Linked DNA regions of Homo sapiens: region 2 is linked to region 1. A link means that fine-mapping ties the variant in region 1 to the expression of a gene that starts in the linked region. Tissue or cell type: regulatory T cells. Region 1 holds a variant in brackets; the other region holds the start of a gene. All regions are shown on one strand. Distances are between the middles of the regions.

Region 1 (8,103 bases):
GGCTGGTGCTGGGGGAGCCCAGTGAGGGAAAGCCATGCCACCGCTCCCCACCGTCACTCTGCACAGACCACACTCTCAGCCACTGTCCCCCAGCATGGCATGCAGGGGAGGGAGAGTGAGTGACGTGCCCAAGCTGGAGGCCACGAGGACCTTGGAGCCTCGGACAGAGGACCAGCGGCTGTCATGTGCAGAGGACTTTGGGGGTGTAGGGCAGGTCCCATCCTGGATGAAGGTGAAGGAGGGGATGGCAGGAGTGGAGCGGTCGCCTGGCTGGGCAGATTGGTTTTCTTTGGGTGAGAGGATGGGGAAGAGCTCAAGTGCTGAGCGGGGAAAGTGTCTCCCGCCACCTCGGCCCGTGGGAGCTCAGCCCTCTGCCCCATTAGTCATGGATTCTTTTCATTGTCGTCATCTCTCCGAACACAAATATTGTTAAACTCTTGGCTGAACTCCCTGTGCATGTTGGCGCTGAAAAATGTGAGGCCGCTGTGTGTGGGCCGCTCGGGCCTCCTGGGCTCGCAGGACACACCGAGCTCGGTCACCCCGTGCTGGCCGCGGCGTGTCTCGCTGACACGTTTCTTCCTCTGGGTCAGTTTGCAGGGTCCAGTGCGGACGGCACCCGGCGGGGCATGGGCGTGGACATCTCTCTGCTGAGCTGCCAGTACTTCCTGGCTCAGATTCTGGTCTCCCTGGTCCTGGGGCCCCTGACCTCGGCCGTGGGCAGTGCCAACGGGGTGATGTACTTCTCCAGCCTCGTGTCCTTCCTGGGCTGCCTGTACTCCTCCCTGTTTGTCATTTATGAAATTCCTCCCAGCGACGCTGCAGACGAGGAGCACCGGCCCCTCCTGCTGAACGTCTGACATCGCGGAGCCTCGACTCCGGACACGCGCCTGCACCTGGGGGTCTGGAGCAGGCCGACCAGTGAGGACCAAAGGGCCTTGTTGGACAGGGGGACTGGCTGCCTACTGGAATGTAAATATGTGATAAAATAATAAATGACAGCGGCAAAGCCTATGGTTTCTAGGCATTGCTCTCTGGTGGCTGAGAGGTCCCCATGGGATTGAGTTACCCTCCTGAGGACTCGGGCAGGGGAGGTTTGTAAGAATCTTTTTTTGAAAGTAAAGGTGTAATTCAATGGTTCTCAACCAGGGGCAATTTTGCCACCCCACCCCCACCCCCAGGAAGACATCTGGCAAAGTCTGGAGATAGCTTTGGTTGTCACAACTCGGGGATGCTGTAAACCTCCCACGGCACACAGGACCGCCCCAACAGCAAGGAGCTAGCAAGACCCAGCTGTCAATTGTGCTGAGGTAGAGTGAGCCTGGTCTAACTGGACCATACATTCTGTACATTGCATCCCAGGGTAGAGTCACAGTATACAGGTCTTTTGGATCAGAAGGCCTCATATTCATTCACTTGTCCATTCATCCATTTATTCTCTCATCCATTCATTCATCTACCCATCCGCATATCCACCCATCCACATAACCATCCATCCACTCATCCAAATATCCTCCCATCCAAATATCCACTCATCTATATATCCATCCATCTACATACCCACCCATTCATCCGTCCACATAACCATCCGTCCACTCATCCAAATATCCACCCATCTGAATATCTACTCATCTATATATCCATCCATCCACATATCCACCCATCCACCCATCTAAATATCCACTTCTCCATATATCCATCCATCCATCCATCCATCCATCCATCCATCCATCCATCCACATCCAAATATCCACTTCTCCATATATCCATCCATCCACATATCCACCCATCCGTCCATCCACATAACCATCCATCCACTCATCCAAATATTTACCCATCTGAATATCCACTCATCCACAAAACCATCCATCCACACATCCACCCATCTACCCATCCACATAACCATCCATCTACTCATCCAAATATCCACCTATCCGAATATCCACTCATCCATATATCCATCCATCCACATGTCCACCCATCTACCCATCCAAATATCCATTTCTCCATCCATCCATCCTTCCACCCATCCTCTTATCCACTCATCCACCCTCCAGATATCCAGCGAGTGCCTGGGTGTGGCAGACAGTGGTTGGCCTGGGAATCCAGCTGTAAGTGTCCACTCTGCCCTGCTGGAACTGATGTGAGAGGAAGGGAGACACATGGCTCACTGAGGTTCCGTGCAGCGCAAGCGCAGGGAAGGAGGACAGGGCGACAGCAGCGTGTCTGGGTGGCCTCAGTAGTGAGGTGCCGTTTGAGCAGTGTCCTGATGAAGCCAGGGAGTGATCTCTGAAGTGAGCACTTGCTTGACAGGCTCGAGGGAGCATAGGCACCAAGATGCTCAGATTGTAAAATGCCCCAAAAGTTGAAATCTCAAAGAGTTTGGAGCTGATGTGGCTGGCCAGCGCCCATCCTGCCTTTTGACTCCACAGGCAGGGACTAGGGGCTGGAGGGCGAGGTTCGGGTCATTCTTCCCCCTCCATCCGCCAAGGGTTCATTCCACAGATGGACACCATGTGCCTGCTGCGTGCAGGCGTCGCTGGGCCTGGGTCTGCCCGGGCTGTGCCCACTGCCTCCCAGTGCCCCTTTGTGGATCTGGCAAAGCTCTCGTGAGTGTGGCAGTCCCTCGCCATCTGGCCTCTGACCATCTTCGTCACCTGACGCTGGAAGCTCACCAAGGCCCCTTCTCAGAGGCCTGGGAGGGCTCCTCCACGCATGGTGATTAATGGCCATGAGGGGTCACGGCCGGGTCCCTGTTGTCGCCAAGCTGGGCCTGGTCTGGGATTGTGCAGCCCCCAGTTCCCTCACTGCATGGGCCCTGTGTTCTGGGGACATATAAGACATCCCTGACCACAAATCCACAACAAACAACAGGGGTTCTGGGGCCTGTTGCCAGCCTTGGGGAGTCTGGCGTTCATGACAGTGTCTTATCATCTTGCTGTGACCACTTAGGGCCAGTCAGAAAGGCTACCTCCCCACCTGGGCCACAGCCTCCCTCCCAACCACGGCCTCCCCACCTTGGTTATGATTTTCCCACCTGAGCCCCGGCCTCCCCCATGGGCCATAGCCTTCCTCAGTGTCACTGCCTGCTGCCTCCTGGAGCCCCACCACTCCTCTCTGCGCCCCTGCTGGACTCCTGGCCTCCTGTCTACCCTCACATCCATCTTCCACCCTGAAGCTGGGGGGCTGTAAACACGGGCCTGAGCCCATCCCCTCTTCTAGTCTTCCATGACACCTACCCTGGCTCCCCAGACCCTAAGGAATCAGGTAGAAATTCCTTCCACCAAACAGAGCCCAGCCCATCTTCCCGAGCCAGCCACCCGCCACGTTGCCAGCCCCCTGTACTACAGCCACAGAACCTTTGTGGGCCACAATCGGTTCCTGTGTTTAGGATCTTCCTGCAGGCCAAGTCCACCTCTTCTCTGCCCATCAATATCTGATTCATCCATGTAGACCTGTCTGAAATGCCACTTCCTCCGTGCAGTCCACCCTGCTTGGAGCCAGTGATTCTTTCCCTGTGCTTTCATGTGATGCTGCTTTACCCTTCATGGTCATGAGCTCAGTGAAGCGGGTCTCACGGTCCCTGATACACATGTAGCTGAAGCACAGAGAGGTTTAGTGGCTTTTCAAAGTCACACCGCTCCTTTGAGCCTCTGTAGACTCAGGCCCTGTTAGTCCCATGCTTTTCCTGGAACTGCAGACTTACCCTCCCCACATTTATGTTGTTTGGAAGAGCTTCAGACTTCCTAGAAAATGTGGTGTTGGGTGGCTGTCCTCTGGTCTGGGCTGTCTTTGCCCAGAACTGGTCAAAATGAAGAATAAGGGGCTTCCCGCTTACTCTTGGCTTGTCAAATCTTAGGCCCTCTTCCTAGAACTTTCTAACAAAACACAGATTGCTTCTACACGTGGGAATCGTCCCTGTCAGCCTCTCTTTTCTGAGAACCTGCCCTGCCTCCCGAACTGTGGGAGTACTGCCCTCTGGCCGGGTCCGAAAAGCTGCCCTTGACTTCCAGGTCTATTCCTAGCAGATGGCAGTGGGAGCAGCCACCAGCTCCAAACCACGAGGCCTAGGA[C/T]TCACTGAGAGCCACATTCGTTTGACTTTCACATCTCAGAGAGGATTTCTCTCTACTTAAAAATCAAGCTGTGGGCCGGGCGCAGTGGCTCACGCCTGTAATCCCAGCACTTTGGGAGGCCGAGGCGGGTGGATCACGAGGCCAGGAGATTGAGACCATCCTGGCTAACACGGTGAAACCCTGTCTCTACTAAAAATACAAAAAATTAGCTGGGCATGGTGGTGGGCGCCTGTAGTCCCAGCTACTTGGGAGGCTGAGGCAGGAGAATCGCTTGAACCTGGGCGGCAGAGGTTGCAGTGGGCTGAGATTGCACCACTGCACTCCAGCCTGGGTGACAGAGCGAGACTCTGTCTCAAAAAAAAAAAAAAAAAAAGAATCAAGCTGTGATGATGAGGGTAGTCACCGCTGCTTGCTGTTTGTGAAGTCCTCACTACACACGAGGCCACGTGTGAATGAATCTTAATCCATTCTCCGACCTTGCTGGGAAAGAGGTATCATTCCCCCATTTGACAGATCTGGATCCTGAGGCAAGCACACCCAGTACCTGGCCCACGTCACAACAGGGTGGAGTTTGAGCCCGGGGAGTCTGAGTCCAGCCTCATGCCGCTGAGTGCCTTAGGAGCGCTGTGAGCCGGCCAAGCCCCTGAGGGCGGGCAGCTTCCTGCCCGTCTGTCTCCTGAACACTGTGCTGCTGCAGGGAGGCCTTCTCGCTCCCCAGGGCTCGCTCCCCAGGGAGCTCAGCTTGGAGGGAGCTTCTCATCCTATTCAGAGGCGAGGGGACAGCGGGAGAAGGCCTCTTGCTTTATCGATCAGCGCTCTGTGAGACTCATGCTTCTCAGGCCACTCAAAACAAAAACCACATCACCAAGATCTGAAGCCACTCCTGACTTTCCTGTCAGCAAACTTGGAAAGTGGCTCCCATTCCTTGATGCCACTCAGAAACGAAACACACCTAACAGCCATCGAGCACTGCCCACAGCACTTAGCATGGAAACTGAACGTCATCAAAGGAATTGCCCTAGAGGTCATCGCCTCCCTGGGTTTTGTGTTTCTTCCTCCCTAGGCTGTTGGGCTAACCCTGGACCATTCCCTGGGGAACCGGGACAGGGTAAGGTGGCATTCCCTGGAGAACCGGGAACCGGGACCCGGTAAGGTGGCATTCCTACACTCACCAGGCTGGGCTACAGGTTTCTGGGGGAACAGGGATGATTTCCCTGGAATATGCAAGAACTGACAATTGCCTGGCCCCCCCGCAGTCGGGAGGTCCTGGCCCTCCCTGCACCTGCTCAGAGTGTGTCTGCAGAATCCACTCGGGTGCGTGGGGCGTGACGTATCATCCTCAGCGGGGAGCGGGTGGAGGGCATCCGTAGAGGGAAGGAGCAGGTGTCTGGAACTGGGGGTGGGTACTTTTGTGGCACACAAGGACCCCCAGCAGCTGCTCAGGGGGCTTGTCGGGGAGTGGGGGCGCGGTTAGTTATGGGAGTCATGATTCTTGGAAGTCATCCGCTGCTGATGCCATCCTGGGATTCTCTTCCACACAAGGAACATTGAGTTCCTACCGGGTACCTCCCAAGCCTTGGGGGATGCAGCGGAGAACAGAAGAAACCTCCTGTTCTCTAGACAAGGCCTTTGCCCTCATTCTCACAGCCGTGCCCGCCCTGCCTGCCCACAGCCATCAGCCTCACCTGCCCACACTCAGCCCCCTCTTCCCAGCCATCTCCACAACCCGCTCTGCTGAGGCCTGTCCAGTTGCCTGATCTCTGACCCGCCTGTCCGGCCGCCTGCCTCGAGGAAACGTCGGATCTCTTACACAATGCTCGCTGTCAAACCCTCCAGCCTTCCCCACCATCGCCGGGGGCCTTGACTTGCCCCTACACCAGAGCTGCAGGTCTTGTGGCAGCCGCGGGCCCAGGGCAAGCACCTGGGCCTTGTAACGACTGCCACCTGGTGGCCAGGATGGGGATGGACTCTGTTCGACGGCTGCCCAGCAGCAGGGTCCAAGGGGATTGGGGGGTGGGGGGGACTGGGTGGTCACATGCCCAGAAAACAGTGGGATAGGCAAGAAATGGCCTCAGGAATCCTCTCTGGGACAACTAAAAGGTGCTCTAAAAGCCTGTTTTTAATTTGCTCCAATGGATACTCAAACCCTAGGGGTTCATCAGAAGCTGATCCCCCAAGCCCCATTCCCCACTTCTACGATGGTGTCAACCAGGGTTGGAGTCAGAGGGACTGCAGGGCCCACACGGCAGGCACAGTCAAGAGAATGTGAAGGGAGGGTCTCCAGGTGCCCAGCAGAGGCGTCCCTGGGAAGCCTTCCGAAGTCAACCCAAAAGGTCCTTCTATCTGGTCCTTCACACCCACTTTCCAATAGCACATCTGGACTGGCAGCAAGGAACCTTGCCCTGCAGGGCCCGTCCGTCCGTCCATCCGTCCGTCCGTCCATCCATCCATCCATCCATCCATCCATCCAGCAGGGTCCATCCACCCATCCATCCATCCCTCCAATATCTGCAGAGCAAGTGCCTTCCACAAACTTGGTTCATTAAGAAGGGGCCCGGGTGCCTGTGCATACACAGAACTGGGCTGTGGGAGATACAGGGGGACTTCTGCAGCCTGGGTCCCTGAGGTGTCAAAAGGGAACAATGACCACTCTTGACAAAGACAGCCACTAGAGAAGCCACCTTGAGTTGGAGAAGCAGAGAACCAGGTCCCAGAACTTGAGTTGCCAAGGATTCCAGGGCAGCTAGGAACCCAGTGGGGATTCAGGTAAAGGACCTCAGATACCGAGACTGTCAAAGGCCGACAATGCCGCCTCCGAGAGGACCGGGTGAGGCATCTGCAGCTGGAGCTCATCAGGGGCTGAGCAGGAGGCTGTTCCTGGCCCCCTGGGGATCCACGATGGATGCCAGCTCCAGCCAGGCCCCGCCTTCTAACGGGAGGTCCGGGAACCTTATGAACCAGAAAGGGCTTGCTTTATCCTGCAGCCCGTATCAGTCCAACCGGATGGCCAAATGTGCGGCTGCATCCCTTGGCTGGCTCATCTGGCAGATCCTCCTTAGGAGGAGGTAGGGAGGCCAAGGACCCCGCTGTTCCTCGGTCTCCATTGGGCAGCAGGAAGGGCCCCAGGGGTCCAGTGCAGGACAGACTTTTCCACTGGTTTTGGGGCCTGGCAGCTTCATCCCCAGTATCTGGGTAGCTGGTTCTGATTTCAAAGCTCTGAGTTCAGATATGTACCCAAGCCTTCTGGGCTGGTCAGGTGAGGCTGATGGTGGTCACTGAAGTCTGTGCTGGTGCCCAGTCACACTGCCCTGGGTCTCACCATGTGGTCAGGCTGGGGCTAGTGAGGGCTCTTAGCTCAGATGACGGCTCCCCACATCTCAGCTTCCACACAGAAGGGCTCTGGCCCTGACCCCCCCCCCCCCCGCCCCCCGCCACCACTCATCAGCTGATCACATCCACAATTGTATAGCTCACCAGTGCTGATTTTTGAGGGCCTGGAAGCTTGCAATCTCGTGTGTGTGTGGGAGGCCACCGCTGATCTCTCCACGGTGCATCCTTGCCCTTCAGATGCGTGATCTTGACTTACCCAGGTGAGGCTTAAGTGAGGTCTCTCCCTCCCTAGACTTACCATGGACAATTATCAACAATGCAGCCACACACCCAGCTGCACACCTACACTGTGCTGAGGCCCTGGGACTTACACCATGCCCTGCAAAGTGCCATCTTCCTAGCCCACCTGCAGTGGAACCAGCGGGGCTGCTGAGCCACCATGCTCAAGCTGAGGATGCGTTTCCAGGAACAAAGGGGCAGAGGGCACGTGGGACGTCGTTGGGGCAGCAAGAGGCGAGGGCCTGGCTTTGGGGTGCTGCTGGAGGACAGCACCATTTCCCTCCGCCCCGTCCACCCAGCAGATGTCTGGTTAGCATTCCCGGCCCTCTTCCTCACATGGGTGCGTGGCAGAGTGGTGACAATGGCCACAGCTGTTCATGCCTGAGAAGCTGCCCAGCTCTGATGAGGCCTTGTTGTAGCATGA
Region 2 (8,103 bases), 78 kb after region 1:
TTTAGCAGAGCAGAGACAGAGAACTTGAGAGGCTACAATCTGAGCGATCAGGAGAAATCTACTCACTGATCTCTTTTTTACTCAGCCAAACCAAACTTCCTACACTCGGGCAAAGGCATTTTAATTTTTAATCATATCAAACTTCAAGTCACTGAAATCCCCAGAAAACTTAAAATATGTATCTCAATATTCCATATTAAATAACTCTACCCTGTTCTGGGAAGGGTAAGAAATAAGTTGATTATATAGATTGGCATCATAATACATCTTAGTTTAATGTTCATAAACAGGTTTCTCTCTCTCTGTTTTTTACCATTCTCAATATGATCCATCCTAGCATATGAGATGCGTAATACTTAAATTTAATTGTCATTGACTGATGCAAATCATCCATTTATATATACAAGACTATACTTGAAATCACAAAACCCTTCTTCCCCATGAGTTATCACTGTCCTTGAGGTACTATACAGTAAGTGTCCAGAAAAACAGCTCATTTTTAAAAAGACAGAATTAAACAAGAGGAAATCAGTAAACAACATCCAATTAAAAAATTAAGCCAAAAAACCCAAATTATCCGCATACTTTTATAGTAGATATTCTTGCATCCATCTCCCACCTCCACTCCCTAAAAAAGCAGCTCAATGTCTAGGCAGATTAAACATGGATCACTCCTCCCAAAGTCCTGAAGAGTGTTTCTGGTTAATGAGTCCTCCCTTCGCCTTCAGACAGTGGAGTGGCTGCTCCAACTCCATCCCATCTGCCCTATCCCGTGGCCTAGCCAGAGGGAAGACTCTCTCCCCATCTGCCTCTACACCACCAGGGAAGGAGATGAGGAGGGAGGCAACCACAGGGAAATGAGAATGAATCCCTTCCCCGCATTCTCTTCATATAATTTCACTCTGTATTTTCCTCAGCAAATCCTTCTACCTCACGTTTATCGGGCACATTTGTCAGCTCTGACCCCCAGCTTTGTGAAATACTAAGTAGTTTTTTGTAAAGCTCCATTTAAGCAATTTATAAGATCCCCTTGTACATCTGTCCAGTGGAAAGTGCAAACTCTCAGGGATAGAATATTAAAGAGTTAAAACTCCTCTTCAAAACAGAGCAACATTGAAAAATGGAAAAAATCCCCCAGAACTCAAAGTATAATAAGCCACAAACCTCTGGTTTGGTTGATGATTTCTGCCAATTACCAAATTCAAACTAGTGATAAAATGCTATTTCCTATTCCAGCCACTATGTTTAAAATTTGATGTTAACTCTCCAACAATCCTTCCCCCACAACTAACCCTCTGTTCCCAAAGACCTTTCTGTTCTCAGAGTTACAACAGAAGTCTATGTTCTCCAGGCGGATAAGCATAATCTGTCACTTTACTATCTAAAAATTATGAACTCAAATTAAAAGTCAAGGGAGTAAAACGGAGAGAATTCTGGAGGCCAGCCCGAGTCTGAGCACAGCGCAGGGTTAAAGGAAACCATTTCATAAGATCAAATGTGGAGAGGCAGCAGGAGCAAAGAGGAAAAAATCAAGTTACATAAAGTCCAATTGTACTCACTGTTTCCTTATTGGGAAGCAGCTCCTTTCTAATTCTGAAGAAGTTCTTCCCGTACTGCCTGAGTCCCTTAACGAAGCGTTTCTGTGATAAAAAGAAACAAATGGGATGTAAAAACCAAAAACAAAACAGGATGTCAGCAAAGCAAAGATATCTACAATCAGCAGAATAACAACCACAAAAAAAGTCTCGGCTAGGGAATACTGCCGAGGCTCGGAGAGTATGTCAGCAGCTCAGCTGGGACCCACTGGCCAGGGCAGGCCCCAGCTACCTTCATCAGAACCCCAATCCCACCCACCACGCAGGGCAGCGCGTTTAAGAGAAGGACGTCCTGCGTCTGAGGCTAAGAAGCAATCTGTCCCCCTCTTCCACCAGGCACACATTCTGGTGCACGAAGGTATAAATATGCTCCATGTTTTAATAAAACACAACTGCTTTCCCACCTGAGAACCAAGCTTCCCAGAAGTGTCGAGCAGAAAGGGGAAACAGAACCAAACCCGGTGACTCTTCTCCAGAAGGGAACCCTAGGGGGTTAAAAGGCCGCTTTCCTTAATCCAAAGAATTTGCCAGGAGGCACCGGAAGGCACCAGTATCACAGAAGCCCACCGGGAACACGAAAGCCAGCGGGCCTGCCCCACCGTCCGTCATTAAAAGCCACTCCGAGACACCAGAGAATAACCAGCACCCCTTCCGCCCTCCCGACGCCACTCGCCGCCCCCATCCATTTTCGCAGCAGACTCGTCCCTAACCCCAGCCCGGAGACTTTCACTTTGTCCCATGCCTCCCGAGCACCCCTCCCCGCCCCGGTGGGGGCAGCTCCTGGCTCCGAGCCCCCACCTCGGGGCTCCCAGCCTGGTCCCGGGCGGCCGACCCCAGCAGCCACAGGTAAGCGCCCGGGGTCCGGGGCGGCAAGAGGCCGTCGCCTGTCACTGGGCTCCGGCTCCACAAAGCGCAGGGCGGAGGCGGCCGCGGGTGGCTCGGCGTGTGACCGCGGCGGGGCCGCGCGGCGCGGGGCCCGGGGGGCGCGGGGCTGGGGCCGCCGCTGACGGGGGAGGAGGCAGGAGCGCGGCGCGCAGAGCCCGGCGCGGCCGCGGGCGGCTGCAAAAGGCGGCCTGGATTGCCGCCGCCCTCCTGTCCGCCAGCCGGGGCCCCGCGCCCCGGCCCCGGCCCCGCCCCCGGCCCGACCCCCACCCCGAGGCCGGAGCCTCCAGGGCACCCGGCGCTGGAATCTGTGTCCTCCTTCCGGACAGGAGAACATCAAGGCGGTAAAGCACAGAAACTTCCTCCCTACCGCAGCAAGCGTGGGGAGAGGGCGCCCACAGGGCTGGGGCCCTTCCCAGGCTGCTGGGTCTCCAGCCCACGTTCCGGATGGACGAAGTCGGCTGCGCCCCGGCCGCACGCCCTCCGCCCCAACCCCGCCTCAGCTGCGAAACGGGGGGCTGGCCCCGACGCCCCCCGCGGTCCCTTCCGGCCCGCGATTGTGGGCGGCCTCTCCCTGGCGGCCCAGGCATTAGCCTGCACTTCCCCGGCCGCCGCTTCACAACTAAATCACCGCGGAAGCTTCCCAGCCAATAAATCACCTGCCCACCGGGCAGAGGGTCCCTCCCACTCCCTGTGTTTGAGACCCGCCAGGCGGATTCAGTGAAGGGCCAGACTTAGCCTTTTAAGACCAGTCTGCAACCTCCTACTCCAGTAGTGGAGGCTTTGCGTTTTTGAATTTCACCCTTGCTGAGATATGACTCATCATTGTCAATTTTCAATATAATTCATACAGTTCGAAGGGAAAATCTCTCAAGGCACAAGAAAGCAGCAAGCTCTCCTCTAGTGTGAGGAGTGACCTTTGTTACTTGACAAAAGTATCGTTTATATGATCAACAGGCATCCTACGCTGTGTGCACACAGCATATCACCGGGAGAGACGGCACGGAAAGATGGCCCTGCCCTCAAGGAGCTGCAGTCTGCCCAGGAAGGCAGACAGGTAAACAAACCAGTCCTAGGGCCTGCAAGAAAAGCAGCAGAGGAACAAAGGGTGGTGGGTGAAGCTAGGAAGAGGAAGCAACTTACTCTGCTTGCTGATGTCTTAGAGGAAGTGACAAGGAAGAGTGTGAGCCTGCCAGGTGGGCTCCAGCAGGGCTTCCAGCAGAAGTCAGCCAGGAAAAGGCACAGGGAACATTCTGGGAACTGCAAGGAGGACAGGGTGTGCAGAATGGAGTGCCAGCAGATAAGACGAAAGAGGCAGGCAAGGATCCGGTTGCAGAGAGCCCTTCAGGCCGCACGGAAGAGTTCCTAATTGTAGGCTGGCAGAAAGGCTGAAGCTGGAGCTTTCCATGAAAAGACTGGATGAGGACTGTGCCAGTGGCAGTGTGGCCTAAGTGTAGATTAGGGACAGACCAGTTAAAGAGGCTGCTGACACAGTTCAGGTATGAGATGAGGACCTCAACTACTGGCACACTCCACCTCAGTAATCAGAATTCCTGCCGCTTAATCCATTCTTCAAGTATTCAGGTATTTACTGAGCACCTAGCTGAGAGGGGTCTAGGAAGATAATAAAGGTTGCCATGGACCTTTACTGAACTGTGATTCATTTTTGCACGTAAGATAAGTATGTGTGAAGTCATTACAGAACATTCTGAGATGTCATCTGGCCAAGCATAAAGAAGTGAGGTGCAGCTCATCAGTGCAGCAAGGGACCCAAGAAGGCTAGACTGCAGTGGTCTGTAGTAGTTCAGAATGCCTTCGCCAAGGCAGTGACATCAGCGAGATCACAAGGGGTGGGCAACTATTGCAGGGGTGGGAGGTGGCTTGGTGACCGGGCCCTCCGTGAAGGTCAGAGGTGGAGAATGGGAGGTGGGTTACAGGGGACAGTCTACACAGACTTGGGGCGGGCAATCTGGAGTGAGCCAGGCTGTGGAACGCCAGGACCATGCAATCGGAACGTGGGCTTGATACCAAGTGACATCTAACAGGTCCAGTAAAAGAGGCCTACACAATAAAGGCAGCATGTGAGAAAGGCTGACTCTGGAACATCAGGGTAAGGTGGCAGAGTTGGACAAACAAATTCAGATCCTGTTTCTTCCATTTATTGTGATGCAATCCTTTGAACATCATCCATTCAACCAATAGTTACTAAGTACCTACTATATGCCAGGAGCCTCATATATATTAATTCGAAATCTTTACAACCTAAGAAGAAGTACAATTATTATCCCCATTTTACAGACAAGGAAGCTGAGGCACAGATAGGTAACTAGATCAACTCCTCAGAGACAAAGCCAGAATTCAAACTTAAGCCCCCTCAAATCCTCAGAGCCACACTCTGTAAAATGCAGGCAGGCGTCTACAGTGGTAACTATTTTCTGTTACCATTTTCTATGAGTCTGTACTTTCCTCTTCTCGGGTCCAATGTCAAATCATAAAGTCCTCAGTATTCTTCCTAAGAAGTGTCTTTCAGCCGGGCGCGGTGGCTCATGCCTGTAATCCTAGCACTTTGGGAGGCTGAGGCGGGCAGACCACAAGGCCAGGAGATCGAGACCATCCTGGCTAACACAGTGAAACCCCGTCTCTACTAAAAATACAAAAAATTAGCTGGGCATGGTGGTGGGCGCCTGTAGTCCCAGCTACTGGGGAGGCTGAGGCAGGAGAATGGCGTCAACCCGGGAGGCGCAGCTTGCAGTGAGCCGAAATTGCGCCACTGCACTCCAGCCTGGGCGACAGAGACTCTGTCTCAAAAAAAAAAAAAAAAAAAGTGTCTTTCAACGCCCTCCTTTCCTGCTCATGCTAGTGGCAGTCCCAGGCCAGACCTTTATCTCTCTTTCCTAATAACTAGGCTATTAACCATCTCCCCCATCCAGCCATTTAAAAGCCTCTGCCAAGGAATTTTTCCCAACTATAGATTTCATCCTGAGTCCCACTTTATCTGGCCCTTAGCCCCTACCTAAGAACAGCATGGTGGTCTCTGCAGGACAGTGTTTACACTCCTTAGCCCTGAATTCAAGGCCCTCCAGGATCCTGGCCCTGCCCACCTTTCCAGCCAGATGTCCAGTAATGCCAACTGGCCCACACTGGGGGACCTCTGTCTCAACTCCAGAATCTGGGTAAGGCATCTCCACGTTCACCTCAAAATCTCTCCTACTCCCAAATGAAACCAGATGTCCAGTTACTCTCTCATTAGTTTATTTATTTGTATAAGGCCTGCTTACCCAAAAAGTCCATAAACTCTTAAAATAATTACATCTTACACCTAGTGCCTCCATATAACACTAGGCAGTTGATGCTCACCACATTTTTTGTCTCCTTTAAAAATTATTTATTTATTAACGATGAGGTCTCACTATATTGCCCAGGCTGGTCTCAAACTCCTGGCCTCAAGCAATCCTCCCGCTTTGACCTCCCAAAGTGTTGAGATTACAGGTGTGAGTCACCGCACCCGGACAAGTGAAACCAACCATGAGATGCTGAGGGCCTGGGCTAGGGTGGTCACAGTGGAAATGGACTGTTGAAAGCCAGAAGGTCCATTTTGAACTCTCCTAACAGAGCTGACCTCTTGCTCCATGATGCCAAACTCTCCTAGTTTTGCTCATACCACTTGGCCTAATTCTCTACTCAACCTCTAAATGCTGGAGTCTCCCCAAAGCTTTGTCCTAGGGCTTTCTGCTATATATATCCTCTCCCCATATGATCTCCACTGTTCCCTTGGCTCTAAATATCTTTCGAGATTGTCACTGGTATTTCTAAGACTAAATCTATGGTCCAAGTCCACTGGGAACACTCAACTTGAACGTTTCACAGGTATCTCAAACTAATTACTTCCAGAAATAGGAATTTGACATCTGGTGGTGAACACAGACCTACCACAGCTGTCAATGTATGTCAATATAATGCTATCAAGAGCAAAAGCACCCTTGGCCCCACTTTAAAAAAAAAAAAAAAAAAAAAAGGAAGTAAAAGCTTCATGTGGCCTGTACTGTTACTTCTCTATGGAAAGCCACAAGGCCTCAAAACCAGCAAAACATCTGCTTCTCAGAGACCAGCCTTTAGCTTGTGGTTTACCAGAAATGTAGAGTAGCCCTGAAAATCGAAACAAAGACGACCACTCACAGTAGTCAATGATTGGAAGGGGTCACACGTGAAAGAGACTTCTGTTGCGGCTGTCTCCTTTCCCTCTATAAATTCATCGCTCTTCAAATGAAGACCCCGAAGTTTTTAAGACTTTAACAATTAACACTATTGACTTATAAATCAACAGGCCCTATAAGCCTCTAAATGCAAGTTCATGGAGACAGTCTGTTTCTTAAGAGTCTTCTAGTTGTTGAGCTGAAATTCGGCATTTCCAGTGCTGAAATTCAAGGTCTCATGAATTATTTCTGTGTCCATTAGTTTTTCTATCACTCCCAGTGTATAGATATTAGAATAGCAGGATGCCAAGGGTAAAGGAGGAAGGAAATATAGAAGGCAAGTCACTGACTTGGCCACTGCTGCCAGCGCTGGGCAGCTCTGCTGTTTATGCTCCCCAGCTCATAGCCTGCCCACTCTCAGACGCACGAACTGAGCGTCTTGAGATGTTGGCACTTGTTTCTCTGGTGTGTTCATGCCCAACCAACCCAACTAGGTGCTGCTCCTTGGAAACATAAAACAAGTCCTTTTCTGTTTGTGTACCCCCATAGCCAGGTGAGATCCAAATATAAATAAATATTTATGGCAAGGAGATTGTTGCTTTGTGTTACAACTTACGTTTATGATTTTGTGCTCTAATTTTTAGATAAACTGCTATAGTTTTCCACTATTGAGCTGAATTTCGTATCACCATCAAAAGTTACCTACCTACAAGTCCCTAGTAGAGAAAATTTAACTTCTGGCTTTAAAAAAGTAAGTTACCTGAACCCAGCATTACTAGCCTTGGGTTTTAATAGAACCTGGAAAGCTCTGTTTTGCATTTTCGCTACAGTGGAAAGAACGCAAGGTTCAGACTTGGAAGCCATGTGATCTAGTCTGCTCCTATGTTCCAAAAAGGAAATTCTGACATGGCTGTTTAGACCTAGCCACTTTAGAAACAGCTATATTGGAATAAAAATAACAATAACATAAAAATAAAAATAACCACGTCAAAATGCATTAAATTAATGTGTTCAAAAGTTCCTCATGCTATTGCTTGAGCCCACCCCCTGTCATAGTCCCCCAAGCCTTGTGCCTCAGCCTCACTGGTCTGCCTAGATACTGGTCCTCACCTCTCCACCTTTGGGATGGCACGTGGACCTGGTGCAAGTAGCATCACCATTAACCTACTGATGAGTACAAACGGCATTGATTTTTACATGCGTCATGGTATGAGAAAGGCAGGGAAACACCACCCTAGAACAATAAAAATGGTGAACACTGAGCGCTATAACGTGCCAGCCACTGTCTTAAAGGCTCTAATGCACTAGCTCATTTAATCATCACAACAACCTTATGAGGCAGAGGCTACTGCTATTCCCATCTTTTAGGTGGGAAAAGTAACCATGTATCACTAAATCCTTGAACCAGGCTGGGAGGGTCAAGGGGGACCAGT

Direction of the effects. Positions count from the first base shown, and alleles are read on the strand shown. Sizes are in standard deviations (SD) of each study's normalised expression.
As copies of T replace C in region 1, the expression in regulatory T cells of the gene that starts at base 3,478 in region 2 goes up (large effect, 1.0 SD a copy in Schmiedel 2018).

The links. PIP is the estimated chance that this variant, and not a neighbour inherited with it, causes the effect.
Region 2: RERE-AS1 starts here. The variant in region 1 is fine-mapped to the expression of RERE-AS1 in regulatory T cells (Schmiedel 2018, PIP 0.95).

The regions. Positions count from the first base shown.
Region 1 is chr1:8,343,157-8,351,259 of GRCh38, forward strand. SLC45A1 (solute carrier family 45 member 1) reads left to right here. Exons shown (of 9, transcript NM_001080397.3): 9 at 591-1,009. The coding sequence ends at 857. Among named protein-coding and RNA genes, the nearest start is that of SLC45A1, 29 kb to the left of the region's middle. RefSeq lists enhancers at 1-460, 6,707-7,527. The variant C/T (reference allele first, on the strand shown) is at 4,071.
Region 2 is chr1:8,421,168-8,429,270 of GRCh38, forward strand. It overlaps RERE-AS1 (RERE antisense RNA 1), which reads left to right and starts at 3,478. Exons shown (of 4, transcript NR_125999.1): 1 at 3,478-3,534; 2 at 7,315-7,421. RERE (arginine-glutamic acid dipeptide repeats) reads right to left here. Exons shown (of 23, transcript NM_001042681.2): 12 at 1,560-1,640. RefSeq lists silencers at 2,278-2,617, 2,928-3,067 and an enhancer at 6,596-6,835.